Linked DNA regions of Homo sapiens: region 2 is linked to region 1. The links come from fine-mapping of genetic effects on plasma protein levels. A gene starts in region 1. The other region holds a variant in brackets. All regions are shown on one strand. Distances are from middle to middle. Region 1 holds the start of SPINT2 (serine peptidase inhibitor, Kunitz type 2). Region 2 overlaps SPINT2 (serine peptidase inhibitor, Kunitz type 2).

The links. PIP is the posterior inclusion probability: the model's chance that the variant is causal. Sun 2018 read protein levels with aptamers (SomaScan).
Region 2: its variant is fine-mapped to the plasma level of the SPINT2 protein (Sun 2018, PIP 0.95). The variant lies in the coding sequence of SPINT2. If it changes the protein, the assay may bind it differently, which can mimic a change of level.

Annotation. Positions count from the first base shown.
Region 1 is chr19:38,261,337-38,269,798 of GRCh38, forward strand. It overlaps SPINT2 (serine peptidase inhibitor, Kunitz type 2), which reads left to right and starts at 3,237. Exons shown (of 7, transcript NM_021102.4): 1 at 3,237-3,662. The coding sequence starts at 3,557. RefSeq lists enhancers at 1-790, 791-1,727, 1,868-2,785 and a silencer at 2,942-3,261.
Region 2 is chr19:38,290,416-38,294,343 of GRCh38, forward strand. SPINT2 (serine peptidase inhibitor, Kunitz type 2) reads left to right here. Exons shown (of 7, transcript NM_021102.4): 6 at 122-160; 7 at 1,425-2,200. The coding sequence ends at 1,591. Among named protein-coding and RNA genes, the nearest start is that of C19orf33, 12 kb to the right of the region's middle. The variant G/C (reference allele first, on the strand shown) is at 1,430.

The DNA.
Region 1 (8,462 bases):
CAGTCTCAGCTCACTGCAACCTCCGCCTCCCGGATTCAAGCTATTCTCCTGCCTCAGCCTCCCGAGTAGCTGGGACTACAGGCGCCCGCCACCGCGCCCGGCCTCTTTTTTTTTTTTTTTTTTTTTTTTTTTGAGAACGAGTCTCGCGCCGTCGCTCAGGCTGGAGTGCAGTGGCGCAATGTCGGCTCACTGCAAACTCCACCTCCCAGGTTCAAGCGATTCTCCTGCCTCAGCCTCCCAAGTAGCTGGGACTACATGCGCCCACCACCACGCCCGGCTAGTCTTTTGTACTTTTTTTCAGTAGAGACGGGGTTTCACCGTGTTAGCCCAGATGGTCTCCATCTGCTGACCTCGTGATCCGCCCACCTCAGCCTTCTAAAATGCTGAGATTACAGGCATAAGCCACCGCACCCGGCCCTTCTTTTTTTTTTTTTTTTTTTTGAGACGAAGTCTCACACTGTCGCCCGGGCTGGTGTGCAGTGGGGCGATCTCGGCTCGCCGCAGCCTCCACCTCCCGGGTTCAAGCGATTCTCCTGCCTCAGCCTCTCCAGTGGCTGGGACTACAGGCGCGCGCCACCACGCCCGGCTAATTTTTGTATTTCTAGTAGAGACAGGGTTTCACTATGTTGGCCAGGCTGGTCTCAAATTCCTGACCTCGTGATCCGCCCACCTCGGCCTCCCAAAGTGCTGGGGATTACAGGCGTGAGCCACCTCTTTTTAATGAACTCTGAAGGATGATAAAGGCCAAGGGACAAACATTCCAAGCATCAGGAATGTTGATGCTTGGAATGTTTCTCAGGACAGATATGGAGATGCCCAGGCCTCCCAAAGTGCTGGGGATTACAGGCGTGTGAGCCCGGCCTCTTTTTTTTTTTTTTTTTTTTGAGAACGACTCTCGCGCTGTTGCTCAGGCTGGAGTACAGTGGCACAATATTGGCTCACTGCAAACCCCGCCTGCCGGGTTCAAGAGATTCTCCTGCCTCAGCCTCCCGAGTAGCTGGGACTACATGCTCCCGCCACCACGCCCGGCTAATCTTTTTGATTTTTTCACCGTGTTAGCCAAGATGGTCTTGATCTGCTGACCTCGTGATCCACCCGCCTTGGCCTCCCAAAGTGCTGGGATTACAGGCATGAGCCACTGCGCTCAGCCCTCCTTTTGAGTTTTTGTGTTTAAAGTTCAAAACTGGACAGATGCAGTGGCTCACGCCTGTAATCCCAGCACTTTGGGAGGTCAAGGTGGGCGGATCGTGAGGTCAGAAGTTCGAGACCAGCCTGGCCAACATGGTGAAACTCCATCTCTACAAAAAATACAAAAATTAGCTGGGCGTGGTGGCGGGTGGTGCCTGTAATCCCAGCTACTCAGGAGGCTGAGGCAGGAGAATTGCTTGAATCCAGGAGGTGGAGGTTGCAGTGAGCTGAGATCACAGCATTGCACTCCAGCCTGGGCAACAGGTGAAACTCTGTCTCAAAATAAAATAAAATAAAGAAAGAAGAGGCCTATACCTTCTTCCAAGCCTTGACGGCTCAGCACATACTTCTCTGTTTTCATGCTCAAGCCTAGGTTTAGTAGGCCTGAGTGGCAGTGGGAGATTCAAGTGCTGGGGGAGACCTTTGGCCTCACATTCAGATTCCACCTTGAGTCCCATGATCTCATTGCAAGGTTAGACTTCCATTGTTTAAGGTAAATACCATTTTGATAACTCAGTTACGGCTTTTCATGTATTATTATGCTAGGAGGGAGGCTGAAGAGTGGGAGTGGCCCTGGCTCCTGAACACACTATTCTCTTTCCTGCCTGAAGGCCTCCGCATGTGCCATTCCTGATTCTTGGAATGTTTGTCCCTTGGCCTTTATCATCCTTCAGAGTTCATTATCAAAGCCACCCCTCACAAAGCCCTTCCTCCGCCACCCCATTCAAAAGATCTCTTGTTATTTTCCATCCCAGCCCCTGATTCCTTTTCTGTATAGCACTGTCAAAGTGTTTTCAGGCCAGGTGTGGTGGTTCACGCCTGTAATACAACACTTTTGGAAGGATGAGACAGGAGGATCCCTTGAAGCCAGGAGTTTGAGACCAGCCTGGGCAACATAGCAAGTCCCCTGTCTCCACAAAAAATTTAAAAATTAGCTGGATGTGGTGGCTCACATCTGTAGTCCCAGCTACTTGGGAGGCTGAGGTGGGAGGATCCCTTGAGCCCAGGAGGTCAAGGCTGCAGTGAGCCAAGATCACTCCATTGCACTCCAGCCTGGGCAACAAGAGCAAAACTTCCATCTCAAAAAAAAAAAAAAAAAGAAATAATCTAAAAGTGTTTTCAATAATAATGCATTTATGTTGATTACCTTGTTGGCTATCCTCTACTCGTGTGCCTGCCCCACTCCATTCCCCTTTCTAGAGTCTGTTCACGTAACTCCTCTTCCAGGAAGCCCTCTTTGACTCCCAGGCTTGGTCAGGTGTCTTCTCTGGGTTTCCCCAGGGGCTTCCTTCCTCTCAATTCTGATGCTGCCTGTGCTAAGTATTTGTCTCCATATCTGTCCTGAGAACCTTGGAGCCAGGGCTCGGGGCTGTTTTTGCATGGGCCTATCACCTCCTCCAGGAAGCCCTCCTTGGCCCTCTCTCAGGCTGGATGGGAAAGCTGTCTGGGCTCCCATCATGCCCTGGTTTTCTAGCGACCCAGCCTCTGATCCCTAAGCTTGGCCTTCCCCATCACAGCTTTCATCACTTTGTGCTAAGCTTCCGCTATCACTACTCTGGGCCGTTCCTGTTTGGTGACTCAGGGACCAGTCTGGCATGGCCACCGCTGGGTCCCCAGCATTAAGCCCTGGAGCATGAGCCCAGTGAACTTTGAAATTCAGGAAGGAATTCACAGGAAAGCTGCGGCGAGGCGGGCAGAAAACCACAGGCTTCCAAGAAACGCGTGTCTGCCGCCCCCTCCTCCCACCCTGAGGCCAGTCCTAGAGCGAAGGCCCTCCTCCGACGTCGTCACCAAGCCCAAGGGAAGGGTGGCAGGTGCTCAGCGGGCAGACGCCCCGCCCCGCCCCGCCAGGTTCTGTTGGGGGCGAGGCCCGCGCAAGCCCCGCCTCTTCCCCGGCACCAGGGGCGGGCCCAGGTGCGCCCAGGGCCGGGGAGCGGCCGCGCAGGTGCCTGCCCTTTGCGCCTGCGCCCAGCTCGCCCTGCCTAGCCAGGTGCGCCCCGCCCCCTGCCTGCCCGGCCACCTTCGGGAGCCGCTTCCAATAGGCGTTCGCCATTGGCTCTGGCGACCTCCGCGCGTTGGGAGGTGTAGCGCGGCTCTGAACGCGCTGAGGGCCGTTGAGTGTCGCAGGCGGCGAGGGCGCGAGTGAGGAGCAGACCCAGGCATCGCGCGCCGAGAAGGCCGGGCGTCCCCACACTGAAGGTCCGGAAAGGCGACTTCCGGGGGCTTTGGCACCTGGCGGACCCTCCCGGAGCGTCGGCACCTGAACGCGAGGCGCTCCATTGCGCGTGCGCGTTGAGGGGCTTCCCGCACCTGATCGCGAGACCCCAACGGCTGGTGGCGTCGCCTGCGCGTCTCGGCTGAGCTGGCCATGGCGCAGCTGTGCGGGCTGAGGCGGAGCCGGGCGTTTCTCGCCCTGCTGGGATCGCTGCTCCTCTCTGGGGTCCTGGCGGCCGACCGAGAACGCAGCATCCACGGTGAGGGCCGGGCGGGTAGGCTGGAGGCGGGGCGCAGGGGGCAGAGGCTCGGGGGTCAACGGGGGTCTGAGCAGGGAGAACTGGCGGGGGAGGAAACTGGGGGCTACTTGATGGCGTTCAGCGGGTGTGGTGGAACCAGCCCTGGAGGATTGAGCCTTGAAATGAGGTTTGGGAGCCTTCGACAGCGAAGACGGGCGGAGGAGCGAGGGTTAGGAGAGTTTCCTTCGGGTGGAGGAAGAGTCAAGGGGTATTGACCAAGAAGGCGTGGCACTGCCCCTTCCTGTGGCAAGAACGGGGTGAGGAGCCGAATTGAAGACCAGCCTTCTCCTGGCGGTGGAAAGTTCCATGGCCAAAGCTCAGGGAGAGGCCAGGCCTGTGAGATGGTGGGGGTTGGGTTGGGTGACCTGGTGGCCGTTTTAGACTCGGAAGAAGCCCATCTCACCCCTGCCTCTTTGGAGATTGGACAAGAGCCTCCCCTGAAGTTTTTGTAGTTGAGTTGCAGTAAAGTAGGTGCCCGAGAAGGAGGGAGCAAGAAAGGAAACAAGCTTTGGGGAAGAGGAAGCTCTGCTAAGGCTCGAGAGAGTATTGGCGTTGAGCAGCTGGTGTTGGGGTCTTTGGATTGGCCCTTAGAAGTCGGTGGTGAATAAGGTGATTTAAACTTCTACACTCTTAAGGAAGTGTGGTCTGAAAGGTCTCTTTGAACAAGTGTTGTTATAACCTTAACTGCTTCAGACAAGCACCAGCGTGTTTTGAAAAGAGCTCTCTTGAAAGCAAGAATTCATTGATTCAGCAAAACTTACTGAGGCCCTGCTACGTGTCAGGCACTGGCGCTGGTTATAACAGTTAACTCAGACTAGCTGGGTTCCTGCATTCACAGAGCTAATATTCCAGTGGGAGAGGCAGAGCTAGTGAAGGTTTAAAAAGCACTTGCCATGAGATTAAGTTACTGAGAATTAAATGAACCAGGTGAAGTACACCAACAGGGTGACGTAAGATGTTGGGGGCGGCTTTAGCTCAGGTGGTCGGGGGACGTCTCCGTGAGGAGGGTGACATCTGAGCTCTAACATGAAGAATGAGGCAGTAGCCACACGGAGACCTGGGGGACCAGTGTCCAGTTGCAGGCAATAGAGTACAAAGGCCTTGAAGCTGGAACAAGCTTGGTTGGGTTCAGGGAAAAGACAGAGCCAGCCTGGCTGGAGCAGGCGTGAAGGAGGGGAGGACTGGAGGAGGATGGGAGGTGGGAGAGGTTGGCTGCAGCCAGATGGCCTAGGGCTTTATAGACAGGTGCTGGTGCTTGAACCCGGGAGGCGGATGTTGCAGTGAGCCAAGATCGCGCCACTGCATTCCAGCTTGGGCAACAAGAGTGAAACTCCCATCTCAAAAAAAAAAAAAGAAGGCCGGGTGATGTGGCTCATGCCTGTAATCCTAGAACTTTGGGAGGCCAAGGCGGGCAGATCACTGGAGGCCAGGAGTTCAACACCACCCTAGGCAACATGATGAAACCCCGTCTCTACCAAAAATACAAAAATTAGCTGGGCATGGTGGTGCACACCTGTAGTCCCGGCTACTCGGGAGGCTGAGGCAGGAGAATCGCTTGAAGCCCAGAGGCGGAGGCTGTAGTGAGCTGAGATCAAGCCACTGCACAGCAGCCTGGGCGACACAGCAAGACTCAGTCTCAAAAAAAAAAAAAAGAGCAGGCTAGGTGTGTACCAAGTCATCACCTGTGGTAACTTCTGGGGACTGGTTAATTTCTCTGTGCCCTAGGCAGGAGAAAAAAGTGAATTGGTGGGGAGAGGCTCAGCTGTAGGTGACTGGGAGTCAGGAATGCAGACGTTGATCATTCTTGCAATTCGAACCAGAATTTGGCAGCTCTGCTGGACTTTTTCAGTTTAAGTAATTACGTTAGGATGTACCTCCCAGTTACCTGGCCTCTTGCTACCTCTGGTGCTTACTCTGAGCTGGGACATGGCCTCTTGCTACCTCTGGTGCTTACTCTGAGCTGGGATGTGCCATTTAACCTTTGAAACAGCCGGGTGCGGTGGTGAAGTTACTTGCCTTGCCCGAGGTCACTCGGTAGTAGTAATTGACAAAGCCAGGTCTCACTGCAGAGGCCTTCTCTGTTCAGAGTGGCCTACCTGACTGCTGCTGCCGACTGGACCTACTGACCTTTCAGAAGTACTAGTGTCTGACTGGGTGAACTCATGCCCTCACTCATCGTAAGTTCTGTTTGTTTGAAAGCTTGAACAGCTTAATCGGAGGCAGAAGGCAGTTTTGACTTTTTTTTCCTCGCTCCTTCCTGATTGCTTCTGTTTTCTCCGGAAGCGAGTCATCCACTGGGAGTGTGGTGTTGCTGAAGCTCCATGCAGTGGCTCAGGTGCTGCTGGATGAGTGTGGTGGTGAGGGAGGAGTGAACAGAGAATGTGTGAGGGAGGGAGGATGGGGGTTGGTCAAGGAATTTATTCTGTATGAAAACATGAGGGGGCGGAGGGCCGAGGTAGATGGTAGGGCCAGCAGATTGTTGGAGTTGAGGTTCTGAAGGGAATGAACCAGACAGATAGGATGCAGTGGGTAGTGAGTGAGATGCATGAGAGGGAGGTTCTGAAGAGGTGGCAGTTACTGAGACAGGTCTAGGTGTGACCCTGAGAGGAAGCGGGGGGGCGAGGGTGGGAGGAGATCAGGTGGAGGTCTTGGGACCTAGAGGTCAGAGGACCATCTACCTGGATATAGAAATCTCCAAGAATGATCATAAGAGCAGCGGGAGAGGTGGCAGGCCCGGAGCTAAAGTTGGGAAGGAAGAAGTAGTTGTCTGGGTTGGCAGATAACGTGCCAGGCGGGGTAGTGAATGATTTACTCTAATAATGGAAGTCTCCCAGCTGGGGATTTTGGGGAGGGTGGAGGGAGAACAGTCCAGAAGCAGCTCCCAGGAGCAAGGAGACCTCCCCACTTGGAAGGGCCCCAGGAGGTGTGCCCTCAGGGGAGATTCCAATTAGGTAAGAGGGTGGCAACAATGTTCAGAGGAGATTGAGGACATGGAAGATTTGCTCAAGACCAGTCCTGAGTACCAGAGGGCCCAGGAGTTGGGGGAGGGGAGATGGGGACAAAGCAGGCCCCACCGTGTGAGAGTGAGGGTTAACTCAGGGGTCGGGGCTTCTTGTGAGAAGCATCATGTGGTCTATGATTGATGTGTTGGTGACGCTCTGAGTAGTGAGGGCAGGTGGGAAGGGACAGGTGGACGGGCCGGACAAAGAGTGTCCTGACTCCAACCTCTGCAGACAGAGGTGGGGGGAAAGCTGAGCTTATGCCAGGTGAGAAAGCTCCCCTATCTAGCGTTAGGGACAGTTACCGTCTGGAGTGGAAAGCACGCAGAGATTATAAACTGTCCACTCCCAGGAAGCTTCACACAGCCTTTATGTGACTTGTACTTTTTCCAGAATTGGGATTTTTTAAACGTAAAAATGTAGTTTTTGGCTTTGCCTGAAAGACATGAAGATGTAATGGAACCAAACCAGAACACAGGCCTGTTTTCCTGCCCAGCAGTCCCTGGCAGGAGCCGAGTACCTCTTTCAGGCAGGAGATATGCCATTCCCTAGCCTGTAGATCTTACTCAGCTTGCCTCATCTCAGCTACTGCTTGCCCTCTGTCTCTGTAGGCCTTTGGCTTGTGACCCCTACCTTAAACATATGCTCCATTTAGTAAATGGTAACACGTAACAGTTCTTTATAAATTGCACATTACAGTGTGAGACAGAGAGAGAGCATGCGCGCGCGCGTGTGTGTGTGTGTGTGTGTGTGTTACGGCTGGCTGTTGGGGAAATCCTTATATCAGGTAGCTGCAGATATGCAGGATTTTTTTCTTTTCCTTTTCCCCACCCAGGTGGTAAATCCTGGTATTTGGAGGGTCCTGAAATGTGTAATGTTGCTCAACACCAGGCCAGATCATATATTTCCTCAGCAGAATAGAAACTTGAAAGGTCCTTTAGGAGTGGCCAGTTAGGTGTAGTTCTTGCTGCCAATAACTTTGTGCCTGGCCCTGGGCATCAGAACTTGTGTTAATGGTTACTTGGCTTAAGGTCTTTTGTTTTTGTTTTTGTTTGTTTTTGTTTTTTTGGGTTTTTTTTTGAGACGGAGTCTCTCTCATCGCCCAGTCTGGAGTGCAGTAGCGCGATCTCAGCTCACTGCAATCTCCACCTCCCGGGTTCACATCATTCTCCTGCTTCAGCCTCCTGAGTAGCTGGGACTACAGGCGCCCGCCACCACGCCCGGCTAATTTTTTGTATTTTTAGTAGAGACAGGGTCTCACCACCGTGTTAGCCAGGATGGTTCAAGGTCCTTTGTTGATTCTTCTTGGGAATTTCCACTGGAGGCAAGCAGGGCAACACTTATTTGAGAACCTCTCCTGCACCTTTTTTTTTTTTTTTTTTTTTTTGAGACAGAGTCTTGCTGTGTCACTCAGACTGGAGTGCAGTGGCGCCATCTTGGCTCATTGCAGCCTCTGCCTCCTGGGTTCAAGTGATTCTCCTGCCTCATCCGCCTGAGTAGCTGGGGTTACAGGTGTGCACCACCACACCCAGCTAATTTTTGTATTTTTAGTTGAGATGGGATTTCTTTTCTTTTTTTTTTTTTTTTTTTGAGACGGAGTGTCTCGCTCTGTCGCCCAGGCCGGAGTGCAGTGGCGCGTTCTCGGCTCACTGCAAGCTCCGCCTCCTGGGTTCACACCATTCTCCTGCCTCAGCCTCCCGAGTACTGGGACTACAGGCACCTGCCGCCACGCCCGGCTAATTTTTTGTATTTTTAGTAGAGA
Region 2 (3,928 bases), 27 kb after region 1:
AAGCTGGAAGAAAGCCCCTCAGAAAGAGCTCCCCATGGAGGCCCTGGCTGAGGGGATCCCCTGCGGCAGCTCTGTGGAATGGGGGCTGTGAGCTGACCTCAGGCTGTGTGTTCTCTTCCAGGCCAGCAGGAGAATCCTCCCCTGCCCCTTGGCTCAAAGGGTAAGTGGCCCCTTACCCTCCTCCTGCCATCAGCCTGCCTCCTCCCTTCCTTGACTGAGCTCAGCCCTGCCCAGCTGTGGTTTACATTATCCTTCACTGTGAACATCATCTTGGCAGAAAGTCATGTTTCTGCGTGAGAATGGCGAGGTGGTGGTTTGTCCCACCGTTCAGTGTACACAGTTGGGGCTGGAGTGAGTCAGTCACAAGGCAGGCCCTGCCCAGGCGGCGTGGGTGACTGGGGATGAGGTCTTCCTGTTGAGCATTTGAGGACTGCTGCACACGGGCCTGAGGCTGGCCTGAGGTGTGGAGGGAGCGCTGCTATGTGGGGCATAAGAGTTGGTCACGGGTGACAGGACGGAGGACCACGGGCCAGGGTGTTTCCCAACACAGTCTGGTCTGAGCGGGAGGCCAGGCCTCTGGCCTGTGTTTCTGAGCTTGAGTTGCAGGTGATAATGTTGGCACAAAAGACCTGCCATGCCAGTCTGGCCTCTTTCTCCACCTGTTTCCCGGTGAAGGAGCCAGGACCTGGCCTGCGAGTCTGTCCTGTTCTAGCAGTGAAGCCTGGTTTGCCAGGCACGGGGCTGGGAAGCAAGCAGTCTGGGTCTGGAGGGTGGCCCCAAAAAGGCCAACTCTGCAGCTCCACAGCCACATGGGGGAGGCTGCCACAGGTCACACTCCTTAGCCGGATCCCCTCCTGAAGAAAAGCATCTGAGCTGACCAGCGAGACTGCAGTGGGGCAGACACTATTAAATTTGCTGGCACAGCTCTGAGTACCCCCTCGCTTCCACCCTGACTTCATCCCGCAGTAGCTCTCAGCCCTCCCAGCCCCTGCAGGGCCACGTCTTTCTCTATTGCCGGTCAGCGTGTGTGTGCACAAAGCCCCTAAGGTTTCATGTGTACACACCGGTGCTAAGTGTTTTTTACACCCTTGTGCATCTCTCGGCCTGGGGCTCCTGTGCAGGTTGCCCTGAGAGTTGGGTTTTTAGTTCAAAAAGAAGGAACACAGATGACTACTCTGCTGGCGACACGGCCACTCTGCTGGCACGCACATAGCATGGCGCCTCCTTTTTTGGGGGACTCTCCTTGGTGGCATCTCTGGCAGGCTGTGTCCTCTCCAGCTGCAGTTCTGGACCCTGTCTGGGTTGGGGAGGGGCATTTGGTCCTCAGGCTGAGCCCACCTGGATTCCCCAGGCCCTTGGTGAGCGCCACTCTGGCTGCAACTCCCCTTGCCTGGCCCGTCCTGAGGCCCCTCTCTCGTCCTCAGTGGTG[G/C]TTCTGGCGGGGCTGTTCGTGATGGTGTTGATCCTCTTCCTGGGAGCCTCCATGGTCTACCTGATCCGGGTGGCACGGAGGAACCAGGAGCGTGCCCTGCGCACCGTCTGGAGCTCCGGAGATGACAAGGAGCAGCTGGTGAAGAACACATATGTCCTGTGACCGCCCTGTCGCCAAGAGGACTGGGGAAGGGAGGGGAGACTATGTGTGAGCTTTTTTTAAATAGAGGGATTGACTCGGATTTGAGTGATCATTAGGGCTGAGGTCTGTTTCTCTGGGAGGTAGGACGGCTGCTTCCTGGTCTGGCAGGGATGGGTTTGCTTTGGAAATCCTCTAGGAGGCTCCTCCTCGCATGGCCTGCAGTCTGGCAGCAGCCCCGAGTTGTTTCCTCGCTGATCGATTTCTTTCCTCCAGGTAGAGTTTTCTTTGCTTATGTTGAATTCCATTGCCTCTTTTCTCATCACAGAAGTGATGTTGGAATCGTTTCTTTTGTTTGTCTGATTTATGGTTTTTTTAAGTATAAACAAAAGTTTTTTATTAGCATTCTGAAAGAAGGAAAGTAAAATGTACAAGTTTAATAAAAAGGGGCCTTCCCCTTTAGAATAAATTTCAGCATGTGCTTTCTTTATGGGAGTCCTAATTTCAACCCTACCAAAATGATCACAAGACACTATCTGAGGTGTCCCATTCTAGAAATAGACCCCTCAAAATAGCGTCTTTCAGATCTTTTTGAATGAATCCACAAGATGAAATAAATGTCCTATTACTGAGTGCCCGTGAACTTTCGCCAAACCACACTTAGCCTCACCACCTGTGAACACTGATATTTTATTACTCTATTTCACTTTTTAAAACTTCTGGCTACAACCCTCTGAACTGATCTTGATGTCCCACTATAGACTGTAGCCCACACCTTGAAGCACTGCCCTCGAGGGCGCAGGAGGGGCGCATGCTGTCCAGGGAGGACCAAGACCTTCCGGGGTTGGAGGGGCTTAACCGAGTCCTTGTGGCGTCCATGACGCTTCTCCTCTCGTGGTTCTGTGCTCTCTGCATCTTGAAGGGGTGGTGGGAGGGCGCTCTAGGTCAGGCCTTGCACCGCCTGCCCTGGGCTTTTCTGTCAAGTCTCCAACACACCCCTGTGTGGGAACGGGGACAGAGAACTGCCCGGCTGAATTTGGCCTTCAGGCCCAATCCTGCTGCCTCCTGTGGGTGTTCCTTTCCTGACACTAGACTCTAGAAGCCCCTTTCCTCCCTCCTCTATTCCAACAAGGAGGTCCTGGGGTACAGGCATCTGGGCGCCCCATGAGGTCCGGCAAGCAGCTGGACTCTACCTGCCTCAGAGACACAGGAGGAGTGGCCAGGTGCAGTGCCACAGGCCAGACTGCTTTCGACTGCTTGGAACCAAAGAACTTCCATGTCTTTCCCTTGGCCCTTCCTAGAAATCCCTTAGGGCTTAAAACTCTCTTCCAGAAGCAAGTTGGGCAAATAGCTCATCTGCTCCTGCCCCGCCTCCCTCACAGCAGATGCCGCAAAGGGATCCTGGTGTCCTCCCAGCTGATCCCCGCATGCCTCAGCCCACTCTCCAGTGGTCATTGCAGCTGGCTCGGGGTTGGTGAACAAGTGGAATCTACTTACCACGTCCCAGACAAATCAGACACACAGGGGTCTGGGCGAGCCTGTGGTCCAGGGAAAGAGGGCCTGGGAGTTGGGCAGAGCCTCTCCACCTGCAGCGCTCTGTGTGTGGCAGTGGGCGCGGCCCCTAACCCCTGCAAGCCTGCAGAGTCTGCACATGCACCTCTGCCCAGCAGGAGTCTTTCTCCACCAACTCCAATATGGACTGTCTCCTATCTCAGTCATGTTGAAAAAAAAAAAATTGTGCCTTTGGACTTTTTTAAAAACTTGAGAATTGGCCGGGCACAGTGGCTCATGCCTGTAATCCCAGCACTTTGGGAGGCTGAGGTGGGCGGATCACCTGAGGTCAGGAGTTCCAGACCAGCCTGGCCAACATGGTGAAACCCCCTCTCTACTAAAAATACAAAAAATTAGCCGGGCGTGGTGGCGGGTGCCTGTAATCCCAGCTACTCGGGAGGCTGAGGCAGGAGAATCGCTTGAACCTGGGAGGCAGAGGTTGCAGTGAGCCGAGATCACGCCATTGCACTCCAGCCTGGGTGACAGAGCGAGACTCCTTTCAAAACAAAAAAGCAACAAAAAAACTTGAGAATCACTTAATTCTACCATAATAGGAAGTTAGATGAAGGGAATTCTCTGAAGCCCAGTTGAGCTTCTGTAGGTTTCTAATACAATGAGCCTTTATATGTTTCTAGTGCAGAAGCTGCTGCTCTGTGACCCACTTCTCCTGCCTAAACCTGCCCCTTCTCACGGCAAGGGAGGCCTCAGCCCCTCCGCTCCTGGCAGCTCAACTCCATCCGGGCCTCTGGACTCTTTCCAGGGCGACTGGTGGGCCTCACCACAGCAGACACTCTTCAGGCTGCTGCCGCC